Linked DNA regions of Homo sapiens: region 1 is linked to region 2. Evidence: fine-mapped expression QTL. A gene starts in region 2. The other region holds a variant in brackets. All regions are shown on one strand. Distances are from middle to middle. Region 1 overlaps NUP214 (nucleoporin 214). Region 2 holds the start of NUP214 (nucleoporin 214).

Region 1 (4,393 bases), 79 kb after region 2:
TGGGACTATAGGTTTGTGCCACCACACCCAGCTATTTTTTTTTTTCTTTTTGTGTTTTTGGTTGAGACGGGGTTTTGCCACGTTGCCCAGGCTGGTCTGGTCTCTTAACTCCTGAGCTCAGGGTGATCTGCCCGCCTTGGCCTCTCAAAGTGCTGGGATTACAGGCGTGAGCCACTGTGCCTGGCCAGTTTTTATATTTTTAAGTGGTTGTTTAAAAAGAAAAAAGAGGAAGAAGATTTGGCAACATATATATCCCCTCTGCTACGCTATATGTAGCCCAGAGACTCCTTTTGGTGAACTGAGCTGTTTGATTTTATGTAGCTAGCAGTTATCTATGTGCCAGGCATAATTTTAAGTCTTTTATTTATTTATTTATTTATATTTATTTATTTACTTATTTTTTTTTTTGAGACCGAGTGTCGCTCTTTTGCCCAGGCCGGACTGCAGTGGTGCTATCTCGGCTCACTGCAAGCTCTGCCTCCCAGGTTCACGCCATTCTCCTGCCTCAGCCTCCCGAGTAGCTGGGACTACAGGTGCCCACCACCGCACCCAGCTAATTTTTTGTATTTTTAGTAGAGACGGGGTTTCGCTGTGTTAGCCAGGATGGTCTCGATCTCCTGATCTCGTGATCCGCCCACCTCAGCCTCCCAAAGTGCTGGGATTACAGGCGTGAGCCACTGTACCCAGCCAATTTTAAGTCTTTTATACAAATTAACTCATGTAAGCATCACAGCACCTCCATAAGATAGGTGCGATTATTATCGCCATTTAAGAGATGAGGACACCGAAGGCCCAGAGAGGTTAAATTGACTGTTACATCAGACACCGGCTGCATTTAGATCATTTAGATCATAGTAACCTCCTAAGGAGCCCTTATGAAGAAAGATACCCTAATTTATCAGAAAGGATTGTGACTTTCTGAAGGTAGAATTTGTATTAGTCCGGCAGTTAATAAAGTGGTAGGCATAATATATGTTTCTTATACATCTTCAGGAAGAAATTTTCTTTATCATCTCTGTTTTCCTTTGAAGATAGGCTCTGTCCTAGTCAGTGATCTTTCTTAAGAGAGAAGTGAAACTTCTGATTTCCAGTTTCTGGTAGTAGAGGACTAAGTCATTCAAGGGAACCAAGTTCCCTACTGAAAACTACTAAAAAATGCTAGATAAAACATAAAAACCTTGTCTTTAAAAGCACCAATAAACTAACAAGGTATTTTACCAAGCCAAAAGGAAAATGGGGACCTAGAGAAGTGGAGCCCAGAAGCCAGTTGTGCCCTGACAGCATTTACTAATCTGAGAAAATGTGAATTTTCTATTTAATAACCCCAAAGGTAAAGGGACAAAAATCACCAACTAAGATATGCACAAAGTGGGGAGTCTAAAAGAGACCCTTCAGCTGGGACTCCATGTTGACAGGTCTCAGCCCCTGACTAGACTGATATGGTTCCAGAGTGATGCTGCCTCCAGGTGTCTGGCAGAGGCAGCGCAGGCCCACCCTGAAGGAAAGGAACTTTACTTAGCCTTCGAATTACTCTTACAAGTAATTTCTGTCCCTCAATGAGACACACAAGGAAACCAGGAACTATGAGCAAGAGCCAGAATAAGCGTCAGAAATCACCTTTGCACAGACTACCTAAACTGTAAATCAGCTGGGGCTTACAGAGTTTAGAAGAAATCAAAGACAAACTTGAAAATACCAGTAAGGAATATAAAATCTTAAGAAGTGTCATAGCAAATTTGAAGAAGAACCAAATAGAATTTCTAGGAAAATGTAATGATTAAACTCAGGTGTAAACTCAGTGGCTGTATTTGGAGCAGATTAGACCCACTGAAAGGAGCAGTGGTGCTCTAGAACAGAATGTGGTAGTCAGCGTTTCCAGCTTTGAGGGCTATCGATAGCCTCTGTCAGAAGCACTTAACGCTGCCATTGTAGTGCAGAAGCAGCCGTAGACAATA[T/C]GTAAACGAATGCGCATGATTGTGTTCAGTAAAGCTTTGTTTACAAAAACAGGCAGTGAGCTGGATTTGGCCCCTGCGCTGTAGTTTGCTGACCTAACTAGAAGGTAGGTTAAGGTGAGTTACCTGGAATGCATCACAGAGAGCGAAATGAAAGATACAAAAGAGAAAAAATCCTGTAGGAGAAAATCCAACACACATTTAATCAGAGTCCCAGAAGGAGAAGAGAGAAAGACAGAACCTTCCAAAACTAATCGATAATAGTAATCCACAGATTCAGAAGCCCAACAAGTGCCAAACGAGAATGCATAAAAGGAAACTGATTCTAAGACCTGTCCTAGTGATACTGAAGAACACCAAAGATGAAATATTAAAAGCAACTAGAGAAAAAAGACAGATTATCTTCTAGGGTGCCATAGGCAGACTGACAGCAGACTTTTCAGCAATGACCATGAAAGCCAGAACTGGCCACCTAGCATTTCTAAATCCAGCAAAAAAATATCTATAAAGAATGAAGAGAAATCAAGACTTTTTTTCAGATAAGCAAATACTGAAATAATTTATGTCTAGCAGACCTGACTCCAGTCTGGGCGACAGAGCAAGACTCCATCTCAAAAAACAAAAGAAATTCTAAGAGATACTGTTTGGAAAGAAGGAAAATTTGACCTCACTAAAATTATGGCCCTCTTAATTTTAGGGTAAAACAAGCCATTAAATAGGAAAATTGTAGCCTATGTAACCAACAGTGTAATTGTATTCAGAATATGTAAAGCTTTCCTATAGTTCAAAAAGAAAGACAGCTATACCCAAATTAAATTAAAAGGCTGACAGTACCAAGTATTGGTGAGGAAGAAGAGCAACTGGGAACTCATATTGCTAGTGAGAGTGTAAATTCATATTAACCACTTTGGAAAACCATTTGGCAGTATCAAAACTAATATACAAAATCCCTCTTGGCCCAGCAAATCTACCCTGAATATGTAACCAACAGAAATGAGTGCCTTTGTTCACCAAAAGATATTGATAAGAATGTTCACAGCAGAATATTCTTAATAGCTAAACACAGGAAACAGCCCAAATGCTTATGAGCTAAAGAATGCATAAATAAATTGTGGTATATTCATACAGCCCAATACTACAGAGAAATAAAATGTACTGCTCCTATAGCTGGCCTAGGTTTGTTTTTTTGTTGTTGTTTTGTTTTTGAGACGGAGCCTTACTCTGTTGCCCAGGCTGGAGTGTGGTGGCATGGTCTTGGCTCACTGCAACCTCTGCCTGCTGGATTCAACCTCAGCCTCCCGAGCAGCTGGGATTATAGGTGCCCACCACCACGCCCAGCTAATTTTTGTATTTTTAGTAGAGACAGGGTTTCGCCATGTTGGCCAGGCTGGCCTTGAACTCCTGAACTCAGGTGATCTGCCCACCTCGACTTCCCAAAGTGCTGGGATTACAGTCATGAGCCACCATGCCCAGCCTAAATTTGTTTTTTAAAGAAATTCGTGCACGTATGTATCAGGATACAAGTGTATTCATAGCAACATTGTTATAATAGCTTACAACTAGAAGCAGCCCAAATGTTTGTCAGCATTCATATGGGTAGGTAAATTTACATTATTCCACATAGAATTTTTTTCTTTTTTCTTTTTTTTTTTTTTGAGACAGGGTTTTACTCCTGTCGTCAAGGCTGGAGTGCAGTGATGCGATCTCCACTCACTGCAACCTTTGCCTCCCAGGCTCAAGTGATTCTCCTGCCTTAGCTACCCAAGTAGCTGAGACTACAGGTGCACACACTGTGCCTGGCTAATTTTTTGTATTTTTTTGTAGAGACGGGGTTTCACATGTTGCCCAGGCTGGTCTTGAACTCCTGGGCTTAAGCAATCTGCCTGCCTCGGCCTCCCAAAGTGCTGAGATTAGAGACATGAGCCACTGTGCCCAACCCTCTTTTCTTTTTTTTTGAGACAGGATCTCACTCTGTCACCCAGGGTGGAGTGCAGTGGCACAGTCACAGGTAACTGCAGCCTTGATCTCCTGGGCTCAAGCAGTCCTCCTATCAGTTCTCCAGAATAGCTAGGTCCACAGGTGCACCACCACGCCCAACTAATTTTTTCAGTTTTTTGTAGAGATGGGGTCTCACCGTATTGTCTAGGCTGGTCTGTAACTCCTGGCCCAAGTGATCCTCCCACCTGGACCTCCCAAAGTGCTGATGAGATTACAGGCATGAGACACCATACCTGGTCTCATAGTAGAATATTATCCAGCTATGAAAAGGAGCAGATTTCAGCTCCATGTATAACTAACAAGCACAATGTTGAGCCAAAGAAATAGAAAACATCACTGTGATAAACTCCATATTGTTACTTCCCCTTCCACTCCGTATTCTTCCACCACGGAAATTATGTATGCAATTGGAAGGGCCAAAGATTGAAATCAAGGTTTTTTCT
Region 2 (4,393 bases):
ACAGGTTCTATTATGTCATCCTTGTTTCACAACTGAAAAGTAGGCTTGAATAAGCAATGTGCTGCAAGCCAAACAGTAAATGGCACAATCCGACCCCCCTGGAGCCAACCCATGAGGTCCAAGTTAAGAACCTCTGTCGGCCGGGCGCGGTGGCTCACGCCTGTAATCCCAGCACTTTGGGAGGCTGAGGTGGGCGGATCACGAGGTCAGGAGATGGAGACCATCCTGGCTAACACGGTGAAACCCCGTCTCTACTAAAAATACAAAAAATTAGCCGGGCGTGGTGGCGGCCGCCTGTAGTCCCAGCTACTTGGGAAGCTGAGGCAGGAGAATGCTGTGAACCCGGGAGGCAGAGCTTGCAGTGAGCCGAGATCGCGCCACTGCACTCCAGCATGAGTGACAGAGTGAGACTCCGTCTCAAAAAAAAAAAAGAACCTCTGTCCTAGAGCATTTATAATTCACTACAGAAATGTATTCTATGAAGGACTTTAATACCATCAGTCAGCCTTATCCAGACGATCTCAATTCTAATCCTGTCACCACCACTTTCTGACTGAGGGCTATTGGAGAATTTTCTCAACTTCTCTGTGCCTCCCTTACCTCATCAATTATTATTATGTATGTGTATGTGTGTGTGTGTATATATATATATATGTGTGTGTGTGTATATATATATGTGTGTGTGTGTGTGTATATATATATATATATATATATTTTTTTTTTTTTTTTTTTTTTTTTCTGAGACAGAGTCTCACTCTGTCACCCAGGCTGGAGTGCAGTGGCACAATCTTAGCTCACTGCAACCTCCACCTTTTGTGTTCATGCGATTCTCCTGCCTCAGCCTCCTGTATAGCTGGGAACACAGGCGTCCGCCACCACACCCGGCTAATTGTTGTATTTTTAGCAGAGACGGGGTTTCACCATGTTGGCCAGGCTGGTCTCGAGCTCCTGACCTCAGGTGTTCCACCCACCTCGGCCTCCCAAAGTACTGTGGTTACAGGCGTGAGCCACTGCTCCCAGCCTATTTTTATTTACTTTTTTTTTTTTTTTTTTTTTGAGACGGAGTCTCGCTCTTTCGCCCAGGCCAGACTGCAGTGGCGCTGTCTCTGCTCACTGCAACCTCCGCCTCCCGGGTTCACGCCATTCTCCTGCCTCAGCCTCCCGAGTAGCTGGGACTACAGGTGCCCGCCACCGCGCCCGGCTAATTTTTTGTATTTTTAGTAGAGTCGGGGTTTCACCGTGTTAGCCAGGATGGTCTCCATCTCCTGACCTCGTGATCCGCCCGCCTCGGCCTCGCAAAGTGCTGGGATTACAGGCGTGAGCCACCGCGCCCGGCCTTTTATTTACTTTTTGAGACAGGGCCTGGCTCTGTCACCCAGGCTGGAGTGCAATGGTGCAATCACAGCTCCCTGTAGCCTCAACCTCCTGGGCTCAGGCAATTCTCCCACCTCAGCCTCCCGAGTAGCTGAGACTACATACGCATGCCATCACTGCTGGCTAATTTTTGTGGTTTTGTTTTGTTTTTTATAGAGACGGGGTCTCGCCATGTTGCCGAGGCTGGTCTCAAACTCCTGGTCTCAAGCAATCCTCCTGTCTCCGCCTCCCAAGTGCTGGGATTATAGGCATGAGCCACCCGCGTCTCATCAATTAAATAAATAACCCCTAGGACGACTAAGATGTCTTCAAGATTACATGAGATCCCACATCTGAAGGTTTTTGCAAAGGACTTGGCACAAACTCGTGCGACTAGACATGGATATGGCTCTTGCTCTGGAAAGGATCACCTTGATAGGAGCAAACAAAGCTGGTCTTCGGTGCCCTTTAATCTCCCCTCCCAGCCTTCCACCTTCCACACTTTAAGAGTCGTCCCTGCCGACCCCCCGACCCCGTTTTTCTGAACCTCCCTTCCTCCCCTTGCATAGTCCAAAGCCTCTCTCTAAAGCAGCCCCCCGAAAACATCTGTCAAGTTCCAAACTTATCTGAATCGGAAGCTACCAATAGCCAACCTACATCTAAGGGGAACTGTAAGATTTCAGAAGAACAAGAAGCATAGGTCGCTTAGGCGTGGGCCACCCAAGAAGAGAGACTTAACACTAGGTAAGCCCGCGCTGGCTGCGAAGGCGGGAGCGGCACCAGGACCATCCAGGGCGCAGGCGCAGGGACCTCACGGCCACGCCACTACTCAGCCCGAGCTGGCCAATGGGGAGCGGCGGCCGGAAGAACGCGCGGCTTCGCTAGGTTCCGCGGCTTCCTCTGACCAAGCTTGACGTCACCAAAGCGCGCCGGAAATGCGAGGTCAACTGCGCGCCGCTGGCGCTGAGGGGAGGAAGTTTGCTGTCGAGCGGCCTGGGTTCCGTGGGCAAGGCCGTGGGAGGCAGCGTTGGCTGCTTCGACACACTGAGGGCGGCGCGATGGGAGACGAGATGGATGCCATGATTCCCGAGCGGGAGATGAAGGTCAGAGACTAACCGGGGCCTCCCTCCCTTCTTTAGTCCTGGCGTTGCCTTGGAGCCCAGCTGAAAGGCGAAGCGCGGTGCTGGCTGTCCCGCCTCCTGCTTGAACAGTTTACCGCGTTCACAGCTCTCACCAGCGCGTCTGCCGCGCCGCTGGCGTGATAGCCCCACCGAATGCAGTTTCCCAGTCCCATCCTGGTCTCGTGCACGGCTGTTGAGTTACCCTAGCTACTTCCTGGGGCGGTCACAATAGTGGCAATAACTGCTGTTTATTGAGTGTTGACTGTGTGCCAGGCACTGTGGTAGTCATCGCGGCAGCCCTACGAAGTAGTCGTTAACGTAGAGGAGTAAGTTGAGGCTCGGAAAGTAATTTCCCTAAAGTCACATTTGACGCGGGGCTGAAAGCCAGCATCATTTAAGACCTTTGCTCTCCCAGTACTTCTGTAAGGTGATACGGGCTTGCCTAACGTAGAGTCAGGGAAGGTCATCCATCCTGCAGAACCTTTAGTTGATTGGACTAGGAAGACTATTTTGACCTCGGTATATCAGCCTAAAGTCAGGAACCTAAAGGGAGGGCCAAGTGGTCCCAGTGATAGCAACGTGGGAGTCCCCCAGGGATAACTTCAGGATGGTGTGTTTAATAGTTCTTATATGGGTTCTGACAGAATGAGGGTACAACAGACGGGCTACATCTGTTTTAAATAGTGAAAAGAAGTAAGTTGCAGGAAGATTTTAGGCATCTGTGTGAACAATAAATCACTAAAATGCATTTAGGGCATAGTAATACCATGTTTAGAATAGTGATTTTTTTTTTTTTTTGAGACAGAGTCTTGCTCTGTCACCCAAGCTGGAGTGCAGTGGCATGATCTCGGCTCCCTGCAACCTCCACCTCCCCGGCTCAAGCGATTCTCCTGCTTCAACCTCCCTAGTAGCTGGTATTACAGGCGCCTGCCACCACGCCCCACTAATTTTTTATATCATTTGGTAGAGACTGGGTTTCACGATGTTGGCCAGGCTGGTCTCGAACTCCTGACCTAACGTGATCCGCCCTCCTCTGGCTCCCAAAGTGCTGGGATTATAGGCGTGAGCTACCGTGCTGTCCTAGAATAGTGATTATTTTTTGAGAATCACCACCTGTGGTGAGCCACCTAATGGGGTTGTGTCATATTCCTCAGATATGCTGGGGTAGAAGAAAAAAAGGTTTTATTAATAGAACCACAGACTTAGAAGATGGTAATCTCGCACTCCCTTTGGCAGCACATATAAAATTGGGATCATGCAGAGAAGACTATTATGGCCCCTTTACATGGATGACAGACAAATTCATGAAGTGTTCCATATCAGAAAAAAATGAGGGCCGAGTGTGGTGGCTCATGCCTGTGAGCTTGCACTTTGGGAGGCTGAGGTGGATGGATCACTTGAGGTCCGGAGTTCGAGACTAGCCTGGCCAACATAATGAAACCCTGTGTCTACTAAAAATACAAAAATTAGATGGCCATGGTGGCGGGTGCCTGTAATCCCAGCTACTTGGGAGTCTGAAGCAGGAGAATCGCTTGAACCTGGGAGGCAGAGGTTGCAGTGAGCCAAGATCGCTGCACTGCACTCCAGCCTGGACGACAGAGCGAGACTCCATCTCAAAAAAGAAAAAAAGACAATTGAGACAGACCTTGGTCTCAGTAATACATATTTTTGTTGTACTGAAATTGGGTCTACTGAATATAACATGTTTTAATTTCTTTCTTTATTGAATTGATCTCGTTTTGATTCTTCACAACAGGATTTTCAGTTTAGAGCGCTAAAGAAGGTGAGAATCTTTGACTCCCCTGAGGAATTGCCCAAGGAACGCTCGAGTCTGCTTGCTGTGTCCAACAAATATGGTCTGGTCTTCGCTGGTGGAGCCAGTGGCTTGCAGATTTTTCCTACTAAAAATCTTCTTATTC

The links. PIP is the estimated chance that this variant, and not a neighbour inherited with it, causes the effect.
Region 1: its variant is fine-mapped to the expression of NUP214 in whole blood (INTERVAL, PIP above 0.99).

What each region holds. Positions count from the first base shown.
Region 1 is chr9:131,202,556-131,206,948 of GRCh38, forward strand. All of the region lies in intron 30 of NUP214 (nucleoporin 214), which reads left to right. Among named protein-coding and RNA genes, the nearest start is that of FAM78A, 72 kb to the right of the region's middle. RefSeq lists an enhancer at 1,653-2,207. The variant T/C (reference allele first, on the strand shown) is at 1,956.
Region 2 is chr9:131,123,294-131,127,686 of GRCh38, forward strand. NUP214 (nucleoporin 214) reads left to right here and starts at 2,293. Exons shown (of 36, transcript NM_005085.4): 1 at 2,293-2,456; 2 at 4,231-4,393. The coding sequence starts at 2,412. It also overlaps the pseudogene RNU6-881P. RefSeq lists an enhancer at 2,192-2,491.